Linked DNA regions of Homo sapiens. The protein of the gene in region 6 purifies or fractionates together with the protein of the main gene of each other region. This does not show direct contact. Each region holds a gene or a part of one and is shown on either strand. Other genes may lie near its edges.

Region 1 (3,500 bases), on a different chromosome or scaffold from region 6:
GGAGGGTGGGGGGAGCAGGGCAGGGAGATGATAAATTGACCATTATCTCAGGATGTCTCTTTCTGACTGCCAATATCTTCGCCATCGCCAGCATCACCAACCCAGACTGGCTCAACACCAGGGAGTCTGTGGGAGCACTCACTGTGGGCCTCATGGGACAGTGTCAAACAATGCGTGGACGAGAGGGGATGTGCATCCCTCCCCAGCTTCCCCTGGAGTGGGTCACCATGCTGTTTTTTATCATCATGGGAATCATTTCATTGACTGTAAAATTCCCCTTAGACAGACGGAGGCAGCTAGGACTCTGGAGTCAGGTGTGAATCTGCCCTCCCATTGATTGTCACATGTGGTTTGCTGGTGGCTTCCCACTGGGGAAGAGAAGCTACAAAATATGTTCGATGGATAGCATTCACTGGGATGATGCTTTTCTGTATGGCTGCCGTCATATTTCCAATAGGATTTTACATCAATGAAGTCAGAGGTCAACCTTATAAATTACCCAACACCACAGTAGTTGGGTCATCATATGTACCTTTTGTCTTATCAATTTCTTTACAATAGTAGGACTTCTATTTGCTGCCAAGTTTATTTGCCAAGCTGATAAATGTCTAAATTGCTTGACTCTCACTTATTTTTGAAGGGTGAGGAGGACAAAGGCGAGACATCTGAGCAGCCCTCATGGGAAGATGCTCACATGAAACTGATGCTGAGAAGGAAAAATAAAAAAAGTTTTGATTTGCTCTCACTATGCACTTTGGACTTAAAGAAGAAAAAAAAAAAAAAGGAAGAGCCTTTTTGTTTTATTTTTGAGACAGAGTCTCACTCTGTCACCTAAGCTAGAATGCAGTGGCGTGATCTCAGCTCACTGCAACCTCCGCCTCCCGGGTTCTCCTGCCTCAGCCTCCCGAGTAGCTGGGACTACAGGCACCCACCACCACACCCAGCTAATTTTTTTTTTTTCTCTTGAGATGGAGTCTCGTTCTGTCACCCAGGCTGGAGTGCAGTGGCGTGATCTCGGCTCACTGCAACCTCCGCTTCCCAGGTTCAAGTGATTCTCTTGCCTCAGACTCCTGAGTAGCTGGGATTACAGGCGCCTGCCACTGCGCCCAGCTAATTTTTGTATTTTTAGTAGAGACGGAGTTTCACCATGTTAGCCAGGATGGTCTCGATCTCCTGACCTCGTGATCCACCCACCTCAGCCTCCCAAAGTGCTGGGATTACAGGCGTAAGCCACCGCGCCCAGCCAGGAGAGCCTTTTCCATAACCAAATACAGACAATACTGACTAAATCTCCTGAGCATATTCAGGCAGTCAGGTCTGCACTGTGATAGCAACCTAGAGAAGGAGAATGCTTTCTACTGAAAAGCATGTGGCCCTTTGTGACTCTGTTGTTCCATTTTTAATATCTAATGATTCAATAGAGGGAAAAAAAAAGTCTAAGTAGTTATGTATCATGGTGGACCAGAGGGATGCAAGAGAAGTTCATGTGGGGCTGGCCTCACCTCCTGAGAAATCAGTGTTCACAACTTCCTTGTAATAGTATGAGCCTTTGGCACCATTACTGCACCAAGAAGCCAATAGATCAAAACTTGTTTGCTAAAATGTATGTAAAAATTCTGAAATTCCCTATTCTGTGTGTATGAAAAAAAAAAATCAAACACTAAGACACATGTTTTGGGTAGGTAGGTGGGTGGGTGGGGGAAATCTCTCTCTCTCTCTGTATGTGTGTATGTATATATATATATGTACATACACACACAATATATATATATACACACACTATATATATATACACACTATATATATACACACACACTATATATATATACACACACACTATATATATACACACACACTATATATACACACACACTATATATATACACACACTATATATATATACACACACACTATATATATACACACACACTATATATATACACACACACTATATATATACACACACACTATATATATATACACACACACTATATATATACACTATATATATAAAATATATATTTTGCTGACAGAAAAAAAAAAACGAAAAGGTTGGGGAGTGCTGCACTATGCAGCAAACCCTGTGAATTACCTGCCTGACCTCATGTAATTCTCCAGACAATTCTGTGAATTACCTGCCTGTCCTCATGTAATTCTCCAAACAATTCTGTCATCCCTATTTTACAGATGAGGAAACTGAGGCTCAGCAATGAAACTGAGTAAAAGGCTTGCTGTCTGATGTGTCAGAAGACAATCTTGTGATTAGGAAAATTAATAGTCATTACTTTTTTTTTTTTTAACTCTTTGGGACACAGTTTCAGAAGGAACTGACTGTCAGGACACAGAGCCACTCAACGGGAGGGCAGATTCACACCTGACCCCAGAGTCCTAGCTGCCTCTACCTGTCCAAGGGGAATTTTACAGTGATCAGTCCAAAATGCGCGGTTTGCAACATCTTCACCCCCTCAGGAAAGCCTTCCAGCGCCAGTGCATCCTCCCTGTGTGCGCACACCCTCCACCAGCCCTCCAAGGTATTTCCTGCATTGCATTGTGAGGATACACATGGCTGGGAGCACCTGCTCCCGGGATTCAGTCTTACTTGTGCCAGCATCCCTAGCACCCAGCACAATGCCTGACACATGTTGGGCACAGAAACAATGAATGGATAAACAAGCCTGGCCTCCCTGGGCCCAAGCCCTGTAAACCTACCCAAAGCCAGAGCAGCCTGCCTTGGGGACTCAGTGGACCTCCCCTCAGGCTGGGATCACACCCCCAAGAGAGTAATCCAGACAGACTGAGGACAGAGCAGGTTCTCTCAGCCAGCTTTTTCTCCAGCACTGAAACAGTCACAATCTGTTCTTTAGCTGTGCACCAGATGCAGGAACTGGCTTATGTTTGGGAACCATGTTGCACAAAAATCCCACCTTAAACATTAGAACTTTAAAAGGAATGAGTGTGTGCTCGCTGCTCTGTGTCCCTTTTTGCCCTAGGGAGATCATACATGATGGCAGGAGCTACAGCAGCCAGCTTGGACCATGAGATGGAAGCCTAAGTTTGAGCAAGAAAAGCCACATTATCAAAGGAATCCTGCTCCCAGATGATCTCACAGAACACAGCAAGCTGTGCTACCAGCTCTGGACTGTGTACTTCCAGAATGTTAAGGAGCAAGGAATAAACTTCTGTTTCCACCACTGTAGATTTCACCTAACTAAAGGCGTGAGCATTGCCCAGTGATCATCCACTCTGGCCTCTCTCTGCAGGTAAAACAATAATAGTAAGATCAACAATTTCCCAACCAAACTGTAACTGGGATTTTGTCATTACTATATAATTTTGAAGAAAAGGCTATCAGGAAAGAATCATTTGAATCATGTTGAACCTAGAGAAAAAGGACAAACTGATCTGATTTGTTTCATCCTTGAGTATTACAGACATACCTCAGATTTCCAGACAGCCCAGGCTACTCTTTTCTGACAGTTTGCCTGTGTAAACTCCAGCTT
Region 2 (3,500 bases), on a different chromosome or scaffold from region 6:
GTGTCCTTTCTTTTTTCATCTCACACATTAATGTCTCTCTAGCCTTGGCCGGCTCTCGAATCCTTGCCTAACTTGACTTCTTCCACGTCTACATCCGTGTCCACGTCCTCTCGCATTGCTAATCTCTCTTTTTATAAGAGCTGTTGCTAACAGATTGGCCTTTTTCCTTAAGTCTTTGTTTTTCTTTTTCCTTCCTGAGTTCTCCTGCTTCTATGGCCACCTGGCGGGGCCAGGCAGTGGCACAGGCCCTGCCCCCGCGCACTGCTGTCTCTCCCATTTTCTTCTGATTCTCTTTTTTACACTTACTGTGAGTCTTTCTTTTTGTTTTGCTCTTCTCTTGGCACCGGTCTCTAGCCTCCTCTTTTTTTCTAGATAGAGCTGAGCCGGGGAGAGGAATTTAACCCTTGGCGTGCCTAGCTGCCGCACTTGTTGCTTTTGCTCTTTCCTGTTTTGTTCCTTGGTCACAGCTAACATACGCCTTGGTGGCCACTTTTATAGACTGGGTGATATTCATGCCTGTAGCTTCTGCTTGATGTTACCCTGGGCTTGCTTTACAAACGAAGTATTCACTATATATATATTTATATATATATTTACATATATTTTTTTACATATATATGTAAATATATATATTTACGTGTATATATTTCTATATATTTACATATATTTGTATATATATATTTATATATATTTTTTCGAATATATATATATGCTGATTTTTTTTTTTTTTTTGAGATGGAGTCTCGCTCTGTTGCCAAGGCTGGAGTGCAGTGGTGTGATCTCGGCTCACTGCAAACTCCACCTCCCAGGTTCACACAATTCTCCTGCCTCAGCCTCCCGAGTAGCTGGGACTACAGCTACCCGCCACCACGCCCAGCTAATTTTTTTGTGTTTTTTTTTTTTTAGTAGAGACAGGGTTTCACCATGTTAGCCAGGATGGTCTCGATCTCCTGACCTCTTGATCTGCCCACCTCGGCCTTCCAAAGGGCTGGGATTATAGGCGTGAGCCACCAGCCTCAGGGTTAAATAGGATGTAAAGCCAGAATGCTTTACAGAGTCTCTTATAAAACTGACTTAGGCTCTTGTCAGCTCCTTGAAGCACTTCTGAAATCTTTTTTATATTAATTGCTTTTTTTCTACTACCTCTTAGCCTCTGCAGAAGTGCCTCTTAGTACTGCTGCAAATGCTGAAGCTGAGTTGCATTCTCTGGGTCTTTTTTCCCCTTTTTCCTAGATCTTAACAGGCCCTTTTTTAAATATAATTCTCCATGCAGTTGGAGGGTTAAACAGGCATACTGAGAGTCAGTGTAAATGTTTAGTCTTACCTTCACTGAGTTCTAAGGCCTGAATTAAAGCAATGAGCTCAGCTTAACGACAGTGTCCAGGGTTATCACTGCATATCCTGCACATCTCTCTCCTTGTGGGTTGATGAAGCTGCTCCCGTCCATGTATAGCTCCCAGTCTACTGATGCCCAAGGCTGGTCTCGGAGGTCAGGTCTGCTAGAGTAAACTTGAGTCCAACACCTCTACACAGTTAATGCTCGACAGGGCTCTAGCTGCTGGGAACAAGGTGGCGGGTTCAGGGTGTTTCCAGTTTAGTAGATCAATGGTTAAAAAGGGCTGATAGATGAAAGTCTGTTGCCCCACCCCCTGGATGTGGGCTTGGTCATTATAATAGACAGGTCCTCGTGTCTCCCTGAGAGGCATTTGCATAGCTCCAGCAAGACCAGATCTGAGAGGGCCCACTTGACTATCTTGACTTCCTTCCTTGGCCTCTTGAGGCTCCGATCTTCCCCTTCAAGGTGAGACCTGGGGCATGTTAGCTCCTTAATCTCGTTTCTCAGGGGGCTGTTGGCCTCGGTAAAGGGGGGTAGGCTGGGCCATATGGAGAAAGAATTTCTGTTATCTCTGGCGGCTCCTGCAAAACTGGCTTCTCTTGCTCTTTCTGGGACTCCCCTTTTCAACTCTGTGTCTGCTGGTGCAGCTGTTCTTACTTTCACTTTTGGCTTTTTTGCAATAAGCTGTTAAACAGGGCTAAATTTATGCTGGTTTTTGTCTATATTATATTTAACCATGAATCAATATAAAGGAATTGATCTAGGTCCACTGGCTGTCCTCCAACCCCTGTCACCACCTTAAATACATGGCCAATTGTTCCCTGTCTGTAGTTCCTTCGGTGGGCCATCCAACACCAAAAGAGGGCAATTCTTTTTTTTTTTTCTTTTTTTTGAGACGGAGTCTCGCTCTGTTGCCCAGGCTGGAGTGCAGTGGCACAATCTCCACTCACTGCAAGCTCCGCCTGCCAGGTTCATGCAATTCTCCTGCCTCAGCCTCTTGAGTAGCTGGGACTACAGGTGCCCGCCAGCACGCCTGGCTAATTTTTTGTTTTTGTATTTTTAGTAGAGATGGGGTTTCACCCTATTAGTCAGGATGGTCTCAATCTCCTGACCTCGTGATCTGCCCGCCTCGGCCTCCCAAAGTGCTGGGATTATAGGCGTGAGCCACCGCGCCCAGCAAAAGAGGGCAATTCTAATTCACATAGAGTTCTTAACCTCTGGGGGCTTAACCTCTGTAATCCCCTGCAAAACCTTTCTTAAGGTTCTGTAACATGCATTTTAATAGAGTAAGTTTTGATGATTAGATGACTTTCCTTTTATTTTTCTTCTTGAAATTTTTTTTTAACACAGTTTCTAGCGGAGTGGGCTTACTTTGTGTTTGACCTATTTTTCTCTTGAGACAAAACAACATTCACACTACAAGAAGGAAAGGGTAAAAGGTTACTCACTCGTCTAATTCACACTAAAGGAAAATCAAAACTAAAACCAAAGTGTCATTAAAGGCACACCTGTTTGTCAAGGAATTTAAGCCAAGTCAAAATCAGAACCAAAGCCAAAGTGCCAATAAAGGCACGCCTGTTTATCAAGTAATTCAAGTCAAGTCAAAAACAAAAACCAAAGTATCAAGCATTTCAAGTCAAGTCAAAAACAAAAACCAAAGTGCCGGTACAGGCACGCCATGGGTGATCAGGCCACGCTTCCACTCAAATGGAGTGTGCAAGTTCCAAAGACCAGTCTTACCAAGTTTCAAATGTCCAGACTTAAAGTGCTAGTTCCTTCCCAGTGTTCAGCCACTGCGTTGATCCTCCACGGGGGCTTGCCATGCACCACTCTGACGAGGCATTCCACGGGGGCAAATGCCTACCCGGGAGCACTCTCAGGATCTGCATCGCGCAAGCTGGCTGGAGCCCCCCACAGGGATGCTCTACAGGGCAGGCATAAGCTGCCTAAGGGGCTGGCTTGAACGTCCCTTAATCACCTCGCTTCTCAGTCAGGGAACCAAGAAATGTAGCAGGACGAGCTGCAGACAAAACTCCTCAGACACCGGATTAAAGAAGAAAGAGGTTTATTCGGCCGGAAGCACTGGCAGACTTGTGGCTTAAGAGCGGAGCCCCCCGAAAAAGAAATTCTTGGCCTGTTTAAAGGCTTACAACTTTAAGGGGTC
Region 3 (3,500 bases), on a different chromosome or scaffold from region 6:
GCTTGGAGGGTGCCCAGGAAGCCTAGGAGTTAGTGAGCAAGTCCCTGTGTGCCCTGCTGACAAGCTCTGTGGCTCCCCAGGAGAACTGTCCCAAGGCCCAGGGCTCTGGTCTGCTGAGGTGTATGTATGGCTGGGGGGCGGTGTCCAGAGGAGGCTGCTGGATTCTTCCAGCATTGCACTCAGGACCTTTGTTTGGTAGAGGCTTGGCAGCAGTCATCTCGCTGGACAGTGGTCAGCGTGTGCTTTGCCTTAGCCACAACATGTGGCCTGGGCTTTTGGGGAGAGGGTGTGCGTCTGGGGTGAAGCCCAGTGATGTTAATTCCTCCCAAGGCAGAGGCCCTTGCGGAAGTTCGGGAGGGTGCAGGTGGGTGACTCACCTGAGTGGGCTGATCTTCTGCCTGTCATGCGTCCTGGCAGGTGGGTCCGATGGCTCCCGGCTCTATGACTGCGTGTGGAGGTACAACTCAAGCGTGAATGAGTGGGCGGAGGTGGCGCCCATGCTGAAGGCCCGCGAGTACCACAGCTCCTCTGTGCTGGACGGACTGCTGTACGTGGTGGCCGCCGACAGCACCGAGCGCTATGACCACACCACTGACTCCTGGGAGGCCCTGCAGCCCATGACCTACCCCATGGACAACTGCTCCACCACTGCGTGCCGTGGCCGGCTCTATGCCATCGGCTCCCTGGCTGGCAAGGAGACCATGGTGATGCAGTGCTACGACCCGGACACCGACCTGTGGTCGCTGGTGGACTGCGGCCAGCTCCCGCCCTGGTCCTTCGCCCCCAAGACTGCGACTCTAAACGGACTCATGTACTTTGTCAGGTGAGTTCCAGGTGCCGAGCCCCACTGTGTGTTTGGTGTCTCTTACCAGGCCCTGTCTTAAGCACACATCATGGCTGTTCTCCCTTTTCCACAGATGAGAAACTGAGGCCTAGCTGGGGTTGGAGGCTGGGTCTGTCTCTTTGTTTTTGTTTTGTTTTGTTTTTGAGACGGAGTCTCGCTCTGTCGCCCAGGCTGGAGTGCTGTGGCGCAATCTCAGCTCACTGCAAGCTCCACCTTCCGGGTTCACGCCATTCTCCTGCCTCAGCCTCCAGAGTAGCTGGGACTACAGGCGCCCACCACCATGCCTGGCTAATTTTTTTGTATTTTTTGTAGAGACGGGGTTTCACCGTGTTAGCCAGGATGGTCTTGATCTCCTGACCTCATGATCGGTCCGCCTTGGCCTCCCAAAGTGCTGGGATTACGGGCGTGAGCCACTGCACCCGGTCTGTTTTTTTTTGTTTTGTTTTGTTTTTTTAAAAGAAGAGTTTCGCTTTTGTTGCCCAAGCTGGAGTACAGTGGCGCGATCTTGGCTCACTGCAACCTCTGCCTCCCAAGTTCAAGCCATTCTCCTGCCTCAGCCTGCCAAGTAGCTGGGATTACAGGCATGTGCCACCATGCCTGGCTGATTTTTATATTTTTAGTAGAGACAGGGTTTCTCCATGTTGGTCAGGCTGGTCTAGAACTCCTGACCTCATGTGATCCAGCTGCCTCAGCCTCCCAAAGTGCTGGGATTATAGGCACAAGCCACCACACCTGGCTCATTTTTTAACTTTTTGTAGAGACAGGGTCTCGCTGTATTGCCCCGGCTGGTCTCAAATTCCTAGCTTCAAACAATCGTCTCACATTTCCTGCCTCCCAGAGTGCTGGGATTGTAGGTGTGAGCCCCCACACCCAGCCAGGCCTGGTCTTTCGGAGCCCACAGTGCTTGTTCCATTCCTTTGGGTTTAAGGAAAACCCCAGGCTTTCTTAAGCGATTTCACAGGTGGTGGAGTTGAGCTCTTCCAGCAAGAGTAGGCTGTAGGCTGAGCAGCACGGAGCAGAGACAGGCAGCCTGCGGGTCATCATATGTCTGCTGGCCTTGATGACCTGTCTGGTCACAGCCAAATGCTGCCTCCGGCTGGTTTCTGGGCATCAATGATGGCACGGGGCAGCCCCTCCCTGCTGTACTCCGCTGCTTGTTCACATAATCCTGCTGCTCCCTCCCAGCCTAGAGCCTGCCTGAAGCTCTGGGTCCAGGAGGGAAGGGGAAGAACTGAATGACAGTCCCCACTGTGCCCTTTCGTGCTGGGGCTTTGAATGGGGAGCTTGGGGGATGTGAGCTCCCTGCTCCTTGGCCCCCTGCCTCGCACTGCCAGAGCTGCCCTGGCCTTGGCATCTGCCCCACCATCCCCCCAGACAGGAGGCTCCTTACCAGGCTTTTGGAGTGAGCACCAAGAAGAACAGGGGTGGCGTTGCTTGTCACGCAAGTAGCTGGGCACCACCACATGCCCAGAACCAATGGTCTTGCTCTGAGAAAGCCCTGGAATCTCAGCCAGCTCTGGTCCCATTATAAAACATCATCTGACCCTTTGCCCGGCTCTCCCTCCCCCAAGTTGTGAAGGTGTCTTCAAAGAGGGGGTGGAGATGGCTATAAATACAACTTATCAGAGGGCCAGAACCTTCCTTTCGGCCCCTAGGCAGTGGTTCCAGGCCCAGTGTCTTTGAGAGTCCTCCTCCCCTCCCCCATCTGTCCTAGAGCAAGATGTGAAGATGTGCGCCAGGGAGGTCTGCCTGCTGGGTTAACCTTCCCATAGGGAAGCATGAGGGTCTGCCCCGCCACCCCCACCCACTGCTGACCTTTCCAGGGGTTTCCTAAGCCACTTGCACGTGTGGGAGGAGGCAGTGCTCTGGAAAGGCTGCATGCGTTCATCTTACCAGTGTGACCTGTGCCGGAGCACAGAGGAGGGGCGCCCAGGCTCAGCCTGAGTGGAAGCTGCTTGAGCCCTAAAGAGAAGGCTAAGCATGCAGGGGCCCTGCTTGGGGCTGGTCCCCCTGGGCTATTTGTCCCGGTGTCACTTTGTCTGCGCACTTTGGCTCTTCAAGAGCCACATAACCCTCTGCCCAGAACACCACCTGTCTTTGGGCAGCTTGTGCCTAGGACGTGCCATTCTCAGGGAGGCCACAGCCTCAGCCGTTGTCCATGTGACCCACAAATGACCTGGGCCTCCCTCCCCTTGGTTCTGGTACAAAATGCCTCCTTGGCTGGGGTGCAGTAGCCCCCTCTGGGAATGCCGGCGAGCTCTGTCCAGCCTCTGGGCTGTGGTTTGCAAGTCTCTGCTGGGGAAAGACAGGGCAGCCTAGCAGGTTCCAGGGTGTAATCATCATCATCATCACCACCACCACAGGGCCCACAAACTGAGGGTGACTTTGACATTTTGAAATGATTGGGGGCAAAAAATCAGGAATAACATTTCAAGTTAGACGAGATGTAAATGTCTGTCCATGGATAGTTTTCTTGGCACACAGCCAGGCTCGTGTCTATGCATTGTCTGTGGCTGGTTTTGTGCTGCCGTGTCAGGTTCACAACTACTGTTGTTTGTCTTGTAGTATCTTTGTTTCTTTTTTTTGTTTTTGAGACGAAGTCTCACTCACTATGCCTCCCAGGCTGGAGTGCAATAGCACGCTCTTGGCTCACTGT
Region 4 (3,500 bases), on a different chromosome or scaffold from region 6:
TCTGTGGCCCTTTTGCTGCTCATGATAGTGAGTGGTATGTCACTTTGGAGAAGATTCAAGACTGGGATCCCAAGCCTGGCGCAGTGGCTGATACTTGTAATCCCAGCACTTTGGGAGGCCAAGGTGGGTGGATTACTTGGACCTCAGGAGTTTGAGACCAGCCTGGGCACCATGGTGAAACGCCAACTCTATGAAAAATACAAAAATTAGCTGGCACTGTGGCGTGCAACTGTAGTCCCAGGTACTCAGGAGACTGAGGTGGTACGATCGCTTGAGCATGGGAGACTCAGAGGTTGCAGTGAGCCGAGATTGCACCACTGCACTCCAGCCTGGGTGAGAATGAGACCCTGTCTCAAAAAAAAAAAAAACTGGAATTCCAATAGTACCTAAAACAATCATTGCTTTTCAGTATAAACACAGTAACATGTTGAATTGTTTCTTGAACCAGATAGGCATGTAATATGTTCTGAAGAGTTCCCTTTGAAAAGAGGAAGACAGTAGTATTATATGTTGGCTGTTTATAATAATGCAGTGTTTAAGCTTCTACAGAGATGGTTTCTGTTGACTTTTTCCCCCATGCATGAGCCTTATTTTACTGTTTCTTTGTATGTCTCATCATTTTTTTTGGTTAAAAATTAGATTTTTGGCCTGGGCACGGTGGCTCACACCTGTAATCCCAGCACTTTGGAAGGCCGAGGCGGGTGGATCACTAGGTCAGGAGTTCAAGACCAGCCTGGCCAAGACGGTGAAACCCCATCTCTACTAAAAATACAAAAAAAATTAGCCAGGCGTTGTGGCGGGCGCCTGTAATCCCAGCTACTCGGGAGGCTGAGGCAGAGAATTGCTTGAACCCGGGAGGCGGTGGTTGCAGTGAGCTGAGATCATGCCACTGCACTCCAGCCTGGGCAACAGAGCAAGACTCCATCGCCCAGACTGGAGAGTACACTGGTGAGATCTCGGCTCACTGCAACCACCGCCTCCCCCGGGTTCAAGCAATTCTCTGCCTCAGCCTCCCGAGTAGCTGTGATTACAGGCTTCCGCCACCACACCCGGCTAATTTTTTTGTATTTTTAATAGAGAGGGTGTTTCACCGTCTTGGCCAGGCTGGTCTTGACCTCCTGACCTCGTGATCCACCTGCCTCGACCTCCCAAAGTGCTGGGATTATAGGCGTGAGCCATGGCACCCGGCCAAAAATTGGATATTTTTAAATAAGTTTTATTTAGATCCCACCCCCTACCTCCCCACCCCCATTCTGTCTCTCAGACATGATTTGTTTGGGTTTGGTTTGGTTTTTTGAGACAGGGTCTTGCTTTGTCACCCAGGCTGGAGTGCAGTGGCACAATCTCAGCTCACTGCAGCTTCAACTTCCCGGCCTCAAGAGATCCTCCCACCTTAGCCTCCCAAGTAGCTGGGACCACAGATGCTTGCCACCATGCCTGGCTAATTTTTGTATTTCTTTGTAGAGACAGGATTTCACCATGTTGCCCAGGCTACTAGTCTCGAACTCCTGGGCTCAAGAGACGTGGCCACCTCAGCCTCTCAAAGTGCCGGGATTGCAGGCATAAGCCACCATACTTGGCCAGACATGGTTTCTTTTTTTAATCTTTCAAGCTTTTTTTTTTTTTTTTGAAGACAGAGTCTCACTGTTACCAGGATGGAGTGCAGTGGCGTGATCTCGGCTCACTGCAACCTCTGCTTCCCGGGTTCAAGCGATTCCTTTGCCTCAATCTCCCGAGTAGCTGGGACTACAGGCACACGCCACCACGCCCAGCTAATTTTTGTATTTTTAGTAGAGATGGGGTTTTCACCATGTTGGCCAGGATGGTCTCATCTCTTTACCTTGTGATCTGCCCGCCTCTGCCTCCCAAAGTGCTGGGATTACAAGCACGAGTCACTGCGCCCGGCCTCAAGCTTTTATTTAAGTGCAGTGATCCAGGATGGATTTTAGATCTTGTTGAAAGCAGCCACATCCATGGACTGCACATAGTCCTCAAAAGCAGTGATCTGCTTCTCCACTGTTGCAAGTTTATCATCTTCAACTACACGCTGTATTTGAAGTTTCTTAATTTCCTATCCCACTGGAACTAGTTTAGATGAGCCAGACATCGTTTCTTATTGTTGTTACTGGTTTAGTGACTTTCCTGGACTTCTGTAATCCCTTTCCTGTAATTCTGTACAGTCTACATTTTGTGTGTATGGCCACTGAAGTCTGCATAGGTAGTTTACTGAACAAACTGATCATTGGACAGAAATTTTCTTAAAAGTCTTAAACCAGTAAGTCTCCACATTTTTGTTGGGGAGCTCTTTATAGGGTACACCATCAGTGTCCCATCAAGCAGTTTACAACTGCTTTAGCCTTTACTTCCTGTGTTAACAGAACCTCAAGGTCAGATAGAGATGAGAGTTGCTAAGGTCTTTCCTGGACATGTATACAGCTCTGTGCATGTGTATGGCCCTCTAGGTTCTCTGGAATATTGTCAGAGCTTTTTTTTTTTTTTTTTTTTTTTTTTTTTTTTTTTTTTCCTTGAGACGGAGTCTCGCTCTGTCCCCAAGACTGGAATGCAGTGGTGCGATCTTGGCTCACTGCAAGCTCCACCTCCCAGGTTCACGCTATTCTCCTGCCTCAGCCTCCCGAGTAGCTGGGACTACAGGCACTCGCCACCACGCCCAGCTAATATTTTGTATTTTTAGTAGGGACGAGATTTCACTGTGTTAGCCAGGATGGTCTCGATCTCCTGACCTCGTGATCCACTTGTCTCGGCCTCCCAAAGTGCTGGGATTACAGGCGTGAGCCACGGCGCCTGGCCTTTTTTTCTTTCTTTCTTTTTTTTTTTTTTTTTTTTTTTTTTTTTTGGAGACAGAGCTTTGTGTTGGCACGATCCTGGCTCACCGCAACCTCCGCCTGCCAGGTTCAAGTGATTCTCCTGCCTCAGCCTCCTGAGTAGCTGGGATTATAGGCGCTCACCACCACGCCCAACTAATTTTTTTTACTTTTGGTAGAGTCGGAGTTTCACCATGTTGGCCAAGCTGGTCTTGAACTCCTGACCTCAGGTGATCCACCTGCCTTGACCTCCCAAAGTACTGGGATGACAGGCATGAGCCATCACGTCCAGTCTGTCAGAGCTTTTTAAAGCCCCCTATGAACATCTCATTCTCCAGTTTTTCCTTTCAGTTTTTGTTCAGCTTCTTGATAGCCCAAACTTGTAATGCCACCACAGTAGTTGCAATGATAAACAGTTGCCATTGATTGTTTTTTGACAAATGTCTTGTGTTTAAGGCTATTTGAAAAGTGAGCTGTGGGTCAGATCAAATCTCCAAATATTTTATCCTGTCTTAGATTTATGTTTTAAGGAAGTGGTACACGTAAAGCTCTTAAAACAATATCTGCCACATAATAACATGATTATGCATATGTTCTTTTCATTTCTTGGAATGCCATCTGTCTGCTTGTTCATGGCAAAATTTTACTCATCTTTCTGGTCTCAGGTGAGAGCCAACA
Region 5 (3,500 bases), on a different chromosome or scaffold from region 6:
GACTTATCTGTCCCTGCCTTAGTAGATAATCCTTCCCCATCAGGAAGGGAAACATTATCTCCCATCTTATAAATGTAGGAACTGTAATTTGGAGATATTAGGCTCACATACCAATAAGTAGCACAGCTAGAACTGAACCCAAGTCTATGTCTATCTGACATAAGGCTCAAATTCATTCCACTTTACTACACATGGCTGTATTATTCAATCATTCAACAGAAATATATCAAGAATGTACTGTGTGTCAAACACTGTCCTAAGAATACAGAGACAAAAGATAGAGTCCCTGGCTTCAGGAAACTCACAGCCTAGTCAATAGAGTCAAGCAAAGAGTCAGGCTGGTTTGTGCCTATAATCCCAGAACTTTGGGAGGCTGAGGTGGGTGGATCGCTTGAGACCAGCCTGGGCAACACAGTGAAACTCCATCTCTACAAAAAATACAAAAATTAGTCAAGCATGGTAGCGCGTGCCTGTGGTCCTAGGTACTTGGGAGGCTAAGGTGGGAGGATAGCTTGAGCCCGGGAGGTGAAGGCTGCAGTGAGCGGTGATCATGCCCCTGCACTCCAGCCCGGGCAACAGAACAAGACCGTCTCAAAAAACAAAAACAAAAACAAAAAAAAAAAACAAGCAAACAAACAAACAAAAAAGGGCAGATGACTTCTGAAGTCCCTTCAAACCCAAAATTCTAAAGGAAAAGCCATAACAAGTTTATCACAATTACCAAGTGTTCCAAGTACAGCTCTCTATAACTATCTAATAGGGTTGAATCATAAATAATAATTCCAAATATTGTTCTGATACTATTAACAATTTTCTCAGTACTTAAAATCCTAAGACATCCATATTTTCAACCGTTTGGGTAATATGAATTGGACGTTTTTAAAATTTTAGGAGTATGAAATTAACTACAATGTCACAAATTCCTTAAAAACTCACAGCAAGTAATATTCAAAACTGGCTCCAGAATTAAATGACATCTCAAACAGGAAAATAATTATTTCTACTTCACTGTCACCAAGCCCTACAACTGATAACAATAAAGAAAAAAGATTTCAATCCACTGAAGTAGGAAAATGCCCTACAGCGTACAGAAGAGCTGGCCCATCATTCCAGATCTCTGAATAGCTTTCCTCTTCCTTCCCATTAGTTTAAGACGATTGAAGTCATGTTACAAGTTCTAACAGAGATTATTTGCTTCAAAAAGCTACTCAATGAAATTCAGGATTCATCTCTGAATACAGTAAATCTCAAGTCAGTGAAAAGACTTCAAAATTGTGAGGCAGAGTCAGTAAACAGTGTCATGAAGAAGTTAGCTCTTCACTTTCAGAGTCTGGGTGCAAAACAGCAACAACAGAGTCATTAAATTAATCAATTTTCTTAGTCTTAATAAACATTTTAGATGAAAAAACTTATATAATAAGGTTCCTGGCCAGGTGTGGTGGCTAATGCCTGTAATCCCAGCACTTTGGGAGGCTGAGGCAGGCGGATCACGAGGTCAGGAGATCGAGACCATCCTGGCTAACACGGTGAAACCCCGTCTCTACTAAAAAAATACAAAAAATTAGCCAGGCGTGGTGGTGGGTGCCTGTAGCCCCAGTTACTCGGGAGCCTGAGGCAGGAGAATGGCGTGAACCCGGGAGGTAGAGCTTGCAGTGAGTTGAGATCACACCACTGCACTCCCGCCTGGGCATGGAGCGAGACTCTGTTTCAAAAAAAAAAAAAAAGGTTCCTATAAAAAAAGTCCATCTCACATCTAAAAGCAGTAATATAAGACTAGCAGAGCAAAAATGTAATTAAAAGTATATAAACAGCCAGGCATTGTGGTGCGCGTGCCTGTAGTCCCAACTACTCAGATGTTTAGGGTGGGAGGATGGCCTGACCCCAGGAGTTTGAGGCCATAATGCACTATGATCACATATTCCAGCCTGAGCAACATAGCCAGACCCCATCTTGAAAAACAAAAAAGTATACAAACATATTTCTACTGGTGGCCAGAGACCAAATTTGCCCTCCTCCCTGAAACAACTGGGGGGAAAAAAAGACAAAATACATAAAACGTTTTTCAAGACATTGGACATCAGGCAACAAAAGACAGTGATCCCCAATCGATGGGAAACAAGCATGAATCCAACAACTGCTCCAGCATTATGGCCTTGAAAGAGTTTCCAGGCCACAGAACAGGAAGAGGGGAATCCAGGCAGAGCACAATGGTCTGAGCTGAGGGGACAGAACTGAGTCTGGAGACAGCAAGGTAGCTAAAGTACACAGGGCAGAGTACTTAACAGAGTTGAACAGTGAGAAAGATCTGCAGAGGGTATCCCTCAAGTCTGAGTACTTATCAGAATATAAGTGTGAGGAAACTACCCAAAGATAGTGAAAGAACCACCAAAAAGACTGAGAGCGAACACCACCAAGTAGGTCCTGTTTCCACCAGCTGGAGTATTCAGAGGGGTTTTGCCTCAACAGTGTGACAAAGTAGTACTGCCTAACAAATCTTAAAAGCATGTCCCCAAAAGATCAAACTGTTTTCAGGTAACTTAATGCATCCCAGAACGAAGCTCAAGATTTTTGTATTTAATGGAATACAAAAATATCCAGCGCCAAACAAGCTAAAATTTCAAATGACTGGCATCAAATTAAAAAAAAAATCACCAGGCATGCAAAAGCAACAGAATCCATAATGGGAAGAAATATCAATCAACCGAAACCAACCCCAAAATGACACAGACAGAATTAGCAGACATAGACATTAAGCCAATTATAACTGTATTCCATATGTTCAAGAAGCTAGAGAAAAGACAGAGCATGAAAAACATAGACATGGAAGATATAAGACAATTTCTAAAGATGAAGTTATAATATCTGGAATGAAAAATATGGTGGGTGGGATTAAGAGCAGACTAAACATTATAGAAGAAAAAATTAATAAATTTGGAGACATCACAACAGACTATCCAAAATGAAACAAAGAAGACTGAAAGAAAATTGAATTAAACATCAGTAAGTTTTAAGACAACATCAAAGCTACTAATATATATGTAACTGGACTTCCAAAAGGGTGAAGAGGTCAAATAAATAAATAAATAAATATATATATATATATATATATATATATATATATATATATATATGTATATATTTTCTTCTAGGAATAATGACTGAAACTTTTCTAAATTTGATAAAAACTATAAACCCACAGATCCAAGACACTCATTGAATTCCAAGCACAAGAAACATGGAAAATATATAAATAGTTTCATTTACAAAGGGTTCTTGCTCACAAATTCTGTAACTAAATGTACTGTAGAAATTAGACTAGGCCTAACTTTTACATTTACTAGGTATAGAGTTACAACTGACACTTTATAATAGAGTACATTAAAGCATACATTAATCTAAGTAAAGTGCTTAACAGAAATCCTAATGACTTCAAAATTAGCAAAATACAGCTTATAAAACAATGTATATTTTGTTGCCCTATCAGTTAAATAATTTATTAA
Region 6 (3,500 bases):
CTTCCTACCAGATGACGTGCTTCATGAGACCAGGGGCCAGGACTGGGTTTGCTCCCCATTAGCACTGTGGTCACTTAACACTATGCCTGCCATGTAAGAGATACTCAGTATATATTTGTTTAATGAATGAATGAGGCATCTGCCTCTAAGCAACAGTATTTCTGGACACTTGGCCCATTTTGCACTATCCACGAGCTTCTGTTGCTTAGAAGAATACAGGATAGGAAAAAAAGAAAAATTGCCAAAAATCTATGGATACTGAAATACTAAGGAAAGATGCTGAGCATGTACATTCACTTTGTTTCCTACTTGTGGAATGGAAATCATCACATTGGGATCTCCCAACTTTAAAATCCGAAGTGAAGGTCTAAGCTGTCTTTGGGTTAGACTCCTGGAAAGTCTTGAGGAAATTCCTGAAGTATCTGCAGAAAGTGACAGGGGAGGGAGAATAGAAGATGGCCCAAGACTAGAGTGATGGAAGACTTGGAAACTCGAAAAGCTTTCTTCTAACTAACTGGGACTTTGTCTACATGCCAGCTACAGGCTCAGGCACACATGAAGAGAATAATGAGATGAATGGGAGGACTGGAAAGTGGAGGATTTAAATGCTTAGGAAAGGAGCCAATGAAAGCTGACACAAGGACAGGAGGGACCTAGCAACCAAGCGCCGGCTCTCATCACATCAGCAGCAGCATGTCCTACAGCCTTCAGGAAAAGAACAAAAAGGTCAGGGAGGAAAATGACACATCTCAGAACCAAAGGGCAATTCATTATGAGGCTAAGGAACAAAGGAGAAGTCAACCAGGGAATATGCTGAAGAAACGGTGATTATGAAGTCACTGGGGAAGACTGAGAGGCATTTTGGCTGTAGTTCCAATGACTAGAATGAAGGATGATGTGAAATGCTTTTGGATTGGGAAGATTTATTATTTTGGAAAAAAAATAGCTCAAGGAAAAACAAATGGCAAAATTCCTGCCTGAATTTTGAAGTAGTGTCACTAGCAGGATGAGGTTCAATTTATACATTCTTTAGAAATGAAATGGCCCTTGGAAAAGACATAGTGGTAAGATTCGCAGGACATTTCCAGCCTTACGGAAGCTGAGTAGCATGCTGATAGTAAAATTAAGTTTCAGTTTTAGATAGACTGACATTTGAAATTAACAAAAAAAAAAGTAAAGGGAAAAAATTAAAAGACCCTGAACTGACAAAAAAAAAGAAAAAAAAAAGCAACTACTGTCTTTTTTTTTTAAATTAAATGTCATCACAAACAAAAAAAAAAAGGTGAAAGTTGAGTTGTATTTTGGGCAATCTTACTGAGTTTACAAAATGTTTAGTTCATAGCAGGTTTCAGTTTGGACATGAACAGTTTGTAAATATTTACATAAAATTTAAAGATAGGAGGACAGCAGAGGTCATATATTGCTATTAACAATACAGAAGCGATTTTCCGTCATTCCCAAGGCCTTGGTGCTGCGTTCCCATATGTGGCCCCAGCTCTGCCAAAAGCTTGTCTTCTTTTCCAAAGAAATTCCAATTTTTGCAACCAGCATTGACTTCTGAACTGTGAGTACCTCTGACAGGGTCATATGTCGCTGAAACTTCTTCAACATCCAGACAGGGAAAGGAGAAAAACAGGGAGGCAGATTTACAGCGTCTGCTATCTGAATTGCAGATTTTGACAAATATGTTACATTTTATATTGTTCTCTGTTCTATGTGAGGGCAGGGACCATGTTCTCTGTATGTCACAGTCCTACACCATGCCCAGTCATTGATTCAGGACTGGACTGTGTAATGGAATGGGGAAATAACCTTCAGACATTCAAGAAAACATGCACTATATTCAGATTAAGTTCATTCCAACATGAGATTAGTTCTTCCAACTCTGCAGAATGGGCAGGCACGACACCTACTTCAAAGGGTTGCTTTGAGGAATCAATGAAGTACATTCAGGCAAGGTAGTCAGCACTGGGTCTGGCACATGGTGCGGATTCAGTAAATCAAAACTATTATTTTGGTGAGTGTTCTCAAATGTCAAACTCCCATGGAGGTCCTCAGGCATTACCCAGCCAAGTTACCCCATCTGGTCAGTAACAACTAAATAGAGGGCAGGTGGTTCAAAAGTAATGGATTATTCACCTGCAAGGAATCACACTGTACTCATGGTATTAAATTATTCGGCCTTTCATGTCGAATTCTCTGTTAAAAAGGAAGCTGATCAATCCCTGAGTGGGACTCAATGTTGATTTGAAGTTTTGTTTTTTTGGCATCTTTCTATTTTCCAGGTAGTTGTAACCATTCATTGGGTGCATACTCACAAATCATCCACTATATGCCAGGCCTTTAGAAAACAGAGACACACAAAGATATTAAACAAAAAAAGATGTTTCAGTCTGTTCAGTAGTGGGAGACAAGCAGCCCCCAGGCCGACACTAGCTCTTACATATGCTTTCATCCAAAAATTTTTTAAAGATTTGAGCCAATATTTAAAAATCAGGAAATTCCACATAAATATCCAATATTCAGCTTCCCCTGGAAAAATCAAATGATGTGGCAACACAAAGCCAGTAGTCCTACCAACTGTTCCCTAGCAAGAGTCTACAATGAGTTGAGTAGGGGCGGCCTGCCACTCCACACTATGCCCTGCTCCTCACCAGAACCAGGTAAGTACATAATTTGCAGGGCTCAGTGAAAAATGAAAACGAGGGGCCCTTTGTTCAAAAATTATTAAGAATTTCCGAAGAAAACAGCAGAACCTTATACCAAATATGAGGTCCTTCTGAGCAGGGAAGAGGAAGGGGGCCTATGTAACTGCACAGGTCTTATGCCCATGAAGCTAGTACTGGCTCTCACCCCCTGGACACACAGGAAGATATTTATTTATCTAAGTATTCTCTCATTCATTAACAATCAAGCCTGCATTTACAATAAGCTAGATGTCACACCCCTGAAATCTGAGGTTCAAAAACTAGAGTAGAGGGGCCAGGCACAGCAGAGATAGAGAGCCACTAGGGTCTCTTTCCTTTTTGTTAAGACTGGATCCACACCAGAGACACTGAAAGTTAATCCAAGTAAAATTAAACTGCTCTCAACAATACAGATTGGCTTGAGCCCTTTTGTTGGCATCACAGGAGCCTCGATTAGGAATTCTGAGAAACAGCTCACAAGCGCTAATGAATAACTAAGTCCTGTCGGCTGTGCAGACAGTGGGCCCAGAAGTGAAGGGCTGGCCTAGGAGAGATCTGAACATGAACCTGACCATCTGGCCCTCTGTGACTCACTTTGATCACAAAATGAATTGCAACAAATTGAAGAGCACATGGCTAGAGTTAATTGTCTCATCTGTAATCTGAATCTACTTTTAAGCAGTTATTATTACCCTCTATCAGGTGGAAACATTTCCTACCATCACTGCAAAGTGCATTTTCCTGATGAACTATAATGGATCATTAAATTCCATATCTGAATAACAATACTGTGCACTTATTCAGTGCCTTTCA
Region 7 (3,500 bases), on a different chromosome or scaffold from region 6:
GTGCTCACGTCTGTAATCGCAGCACTTTGGGAGGCTGAAGCAAGAGAATTGCTTGAGCCTGGGAGGCAGACGTTGCAGTGAGCTGAGATTGCACCACTGCACTCCAGCCTGGGCATCAGAGCAAGACTTTCTCTCAAAAGAAAAAAAAAAAAAGATGACTTGTTACAGATGTAAAATCAGGATACAGACCATTTCCAGCACCCCAGAAAGTTCTATGTCCCTTTCCAATCCACACCATTCCTTCACAGGAGGTAAATGCTATCCTGAGTTCTATCATTGTCAAACAGTTTTGCCTCTTCTTGAATTTTATAAGTATGTACTTTTGTGTATGACTTTTTTGTTGTTGTTGGATATGTTTGTGGGATTCACTCACATTGCTGTGTAATTATTAGTTCACTTTTTTTTTTTTTTTGAGACGGAGTTTTGCTCTGTCGCTCAGGCTGGAGTGCAATGGTGCAATCTTGGCTCACTGAAACCCTGGCCTCCTGGGTTCAAGCAATTCTCCTATCTCAGCCTCCCGAGTAGCTGGGATTATAGGCACACACCACCACATCCAGCTAATTTTTGTATTTTTGGTAGAGATGGGGTTTCACTATGTTGGCCAGGCTGGTCTTGAACTCCTGGCCTCAAGTGATTCCACCACCTCGGCCTCCCAAAGTGCTGGGATTACAGGCATGAGCCACCGTGCCTGACTGATTTTTGGCTATTAAGAATACAATTGCTGGCCGGGCGCGGTGGCTCAATCCTGTAACCCTAGCACTTTGGGAGGCCGAGGCGGGCAGATCGCCTGAGGTCAGGAGATCGAGACCAGCCTGACAAATGTGGTGAAACCCCATCTCTACTAAAAGTACAAAAATTAGCCGGGCGTGGTGGCACGCACCTGTAGTCCCAGCTACTTGGGAGGCTGAGGCAGGAGAATCGCTCAAACCTGGGAGGCAGAGGTTGCAGTGAGCCAAGATCACGCCATTGCACTCCAGCCTGGGTGACAGAGTGAGACTGTCTCAACAACAACAACAACAACAAAAGAATACAATTGCTATGAACATTCTAACATACTTCTTTTGGTAGACATATGCACTAATTTCTCTTCCATATAGACTTATAAGTGAAATTGCTGGGAAGGAGAATAGGTATAATTTATATAAATCTTCTAAATATTCCTTTAAATACAATCGGTCCTCCTATAATACATACTTTTTTTTTTCTTGAGACAGTCTCACTCTGTTGCCCAGGCTGGGGTGCAGTGGAGCAATCACAGCTCACTGCAGCCTCGACCTCTAGGGCTTAAGTGATCCTCCACCTCATACTCTCAAGTAGCTGGAACTACAGGCATGCTCCACCACGCCCAGGTAATTTTTGTATTTTAAGTGGAGATGGGGTTTCTCCATGTTGCCCAGGCTGGTCTTGAATTTCTGGGCTCAAGTGATTCTCCCATCTTGGCCTCCTGAGTAGTTAGGACATACTATTTATATAATTAATGAATCAAAACTTTATCAATTAACATTTGAGATGATCCTTGGTAGAGAATTTACCTTCTCCTTCAGTGGTGGGGAACAGGGACTAGAGGCAGGGCTATCAGGTGGGGATGAGTCTACCTCCACTGGCTCTTCTTCTTTGATTTTGATGTCTGGTGTGGAAGGCAGAGACATGTCAAGGGGCCCAGCAGCAGCCTGTTGTGAAAGAAAAATGAACAGAGTTTAACCCTATGATTCCTTTCAGGTTGAATCTATATTTTCCCATTTCCAAGATAAGGGAATATGCTTCTAAGAAGTTCTGCTCTTATACAATGCACTGAACTGCATGTCAAATAAATGTGGGCCCCTTATGTTTGATTTGTTTTGTATTTTGAGGCGTAGTTTCAATCTTGTTGCCCAGGCTAGAGTGCAATGGTGTGATCTCGTCTCACTGCAACTTCCACCTCCCAAGTTCAAGAGATTCTCCCGCCTCAGCCTCCCAAGTAGCTGGGATTATAGGCATGTGCCACCACGCCCAGCTAATTTTTTATTTTTAATAGAGATGGGGTTTCTCCATGTTGGTCAGGCTGATCTCGAACTCCCGACCTCAGGTGATTCACCTGCCTCAGCCTCCCAAAGTGTTGGGATTACAGGAATGAGCCACTGCATCCGGCCAAGAAATATGGGCCCCTTATGTTTTATGTACAATTCTGGCCAAATCATTTTGTCGGTAATTCTCAGGGCTTCTGTTTCCCCAACTATAAGATGAAGATAATACCTGCTTCACCAATGGTAAACAAATATTTATAAAGACCTGAAAAAAAAGATGCCATTTAAATCCATGCAAATATTATGATAATATTTTTCAGGAAATCAAAATAATTCCTGAATCTGCTGGCCACTGGAGAGCTGTGAACACTTTCTCTGCCAACAAGGATTACCCAATTACCAAAAGCAAACAAAGACAAACTGGCTATTCAAGTACTGCAAACCAGATAGGAAAGGTATTTTCTGGGGAACTCACCATGCTTGATGGTGATCTCACCCCAAAATATGGTGCTGGATGTATCAGGTAGACAAGGGGTTTGGGGTAACAGAAAAGAAAGGCTGATCATCTGATTGGTGAAATAAATGACAACTTGGTCTTAGGAGCAAGACTGGAGAAAACCAGAAAGGAAAGAGAGCACTTTCCTGGCAGTGATGCAATCACCTCACAGAACTGTGGAGCTGTAAACGGCCTTGCAGGGAACAATAAACCATCTGAGATAATGGCCTTGACACTGAACCAGGATAGGAGGGTTGGCATTGCAGTTCAGTTTCATAACAAAGTGGATCCTTTGTTCTATCTATCCTGTATCCCAGGCTTCTTGGTGAAGCAACTGCTTGTTTCAAGATCTTCCCTTGCTACCCTAACCCTTAGAAACCTTCTTGATAGCTAGCTGAGTAAATTAAAGATAATGTGATATCTACTACATTAGAGAAGGTAGTAGTGGTTCATTTTCCCCAATCTGAGGAGGGTGAGCAACAGCAAAAGTAGCTTCATTTCTGCCTCATTTTTTCTACATAGCTAAGATGTCAGGTCCAATTTAGCTAATTCTGAGATCTCTTAAGTCAGAGACTAGTGGGAAGGAGAAGCCTCTAAGTAAATACAACCATAGATTTGAAATCCTCTAGGGCATCTCCTAGCAAAGCTGCGGTTCAGCAAAGTTCCACACTCATTAAACACTTCTGGAGACTCTTCCACTGAGCCTGTACTTCTCATTAAGGGGAAGTAAAGACCACTCCTGTACAGGCAGGAGGATACACCAAGGAATGCCCAGTGAGGAAAGGGCTGACTATAAACTAGTCTCCCAGAAGTGTCAACTGAGCTAAAATGGCAATGAAAAAGACTTGAAGCTTTTTATGGGAAGCTAATTTTCTTGAATTTGCCTATAATAAATTGGGTATAAAATCCCTCATAGGCCAAGTGTGGTGGCTCATGCCTGTAATCTCAACACTTTGGGAGGCCAAGGTGGGAGGATCACCTGAGGCCCGAAATTCTAGACC

The links.
Region 1: the proteins of BACH2 (region 6) and ZBTB17 purify together in Homo sapiens (affinity purification with mass spectrometry; one large-scale study listed by BioGRID and IntAct). This does not show direct contact.
Region 2: the proteins of BACH2 (region 6) and ACOX3 purify together in Homo sapiens (affinity purification with mass spectrometry; one large-scale study listed by BioGRID and IntAct). This does not show direct contact.
Region 3: the proteins of BACH2 (region 6) and KLHL21 purify together in Homo sapiens (affinity purification with mass spectrometry; one large-scale study listed by BioGRID and IntAct). This does not show direct contact.
Region 4: the proteins of BACH2 (region 6) and ZNF131 purify together in Homo sapiens (affinity purification with mass spectrometry; one large-scale study listed by BioGRID and IntAct). This does not show direct contact.
Region 5: the proteins of BACH2 (region 6) and CCDC88A purify together in Homo sapiens (affinity purification with mass spectrometry; one large-scale study listed by BioGRID and IntAct). This does not show direct contact.
Region 7: the proteins of BACH2 (region 6) and ATF7 purify together in Homo sapiens (affinity purification with mass spectrometry; one large-scale study listed by BioGRID and IntAct). This does not show direct contact.

What each region holds. Positions count from the first base shown.
Region 1 is NC_000001.11:15,969,602-15,973,101, forward strand, and holds part of ZBTB17 (zinc finger and BTB domain-containing protein 17), read right to left. Parts: 5' UTR 3,438-3,500; intron 1-3,437. UniProt on the Homo sapiens protein: Transcription factor that can function as an activator or repressor depending on its binding partners, and by targeting negative regulators of cell cycle progression.
Region 2 is NC_000004.12:8,434,224-8,437,723, reverse strand, and holds part of ACOX3 (peroxisomal acyl-coenzyme A oxidase 3), read left to right. Parts: intron 1-1,756; exon of another isoform or gene 1,757-1,801; intron 1,802-3,500. UniProt on the Homo sapiens protein: Oxidizes the CoA-esters of 2-methyl-branched fatty acids.
Region 3 is NC_000001.11:6,596,370-6,599,869, reverse strand, and holds part of KLHL21 (kelch-like protein 21), read left to right. Parts: intron 1-417; coding exon 418-823; intron 824-3,500. UniProt on the Homo sapiens protein: Substrate-specific adapter of a BCR (BTB-CUL3-RBX1) E3 ubiquitin-protein ligase complex required for efficient chromosome alignment and cytokinesis.
Region 4 is NC_000005.10:43,141,414-43,144,913, forward strand, and holds part of ZNF131 (zinc finger protein 131), read left to right. Parts: intron 1-3,500. UniProt on the Homo sapiens protein: Plays a role during development and organogenesis as well as in the function of the adult central nervous system. May be involved in transcriptional regulation as a repressor of ESR1/ER-alpha signaling.
Region 5 is NC_000002.12:55,413,357-55,416,856, forward strand, and holds part of CCDC88A (girdin), read right to left. Parts: intron 1-3,500. UniProt on the Homo sapiens protein: Bifunctional modulator of guanine nucleotide-binding proteins (G proteins). Acts as a non-receptor guanine nucleotide exchange factor which binds to and activates guanine nucleotide-binding protein G(i) alpha subunits.
Region 6 is NC_000006.12:90,290,344-90,293,843, forward strand, and holds part of BACH2 (transcription regulator protein BACH2), read right to left. Parts: exon of another isoform or gene 2,140-3,500; intron 1,603-2,139; exon of another isoform or gene 907-1,602; intron 1-906. UniProt on the Homo sapiens protein: Transcriptional regulator that acts as a repressor or activator. Binds to Maf recognition elements (MARE). Plays an important role in coordinating transcription activation and repression by MAFK.
Region 7 is NC_000012.12:53,535,883-53,539,382, forward strand, and holds part of ATF7 (cyclic AMP-dependent transcription factor ATF-7), read right to left. Parts: intron 2,459-3,500; exon of another isoform or gene 2,324-2,458; intron 1,671-2,323; coding exon 1,533-1,670; intron 1-1,532. Other genes in the region: ATF7-NPFF readthrough protein, read right to left, coding at 1,533-1,670. UniProt on the Homo sapiens protein: Stress-responsive chromatin regulator that plays a role in various biological processes including innate immunological memory, adipocyte differentiation or telomerase regulation.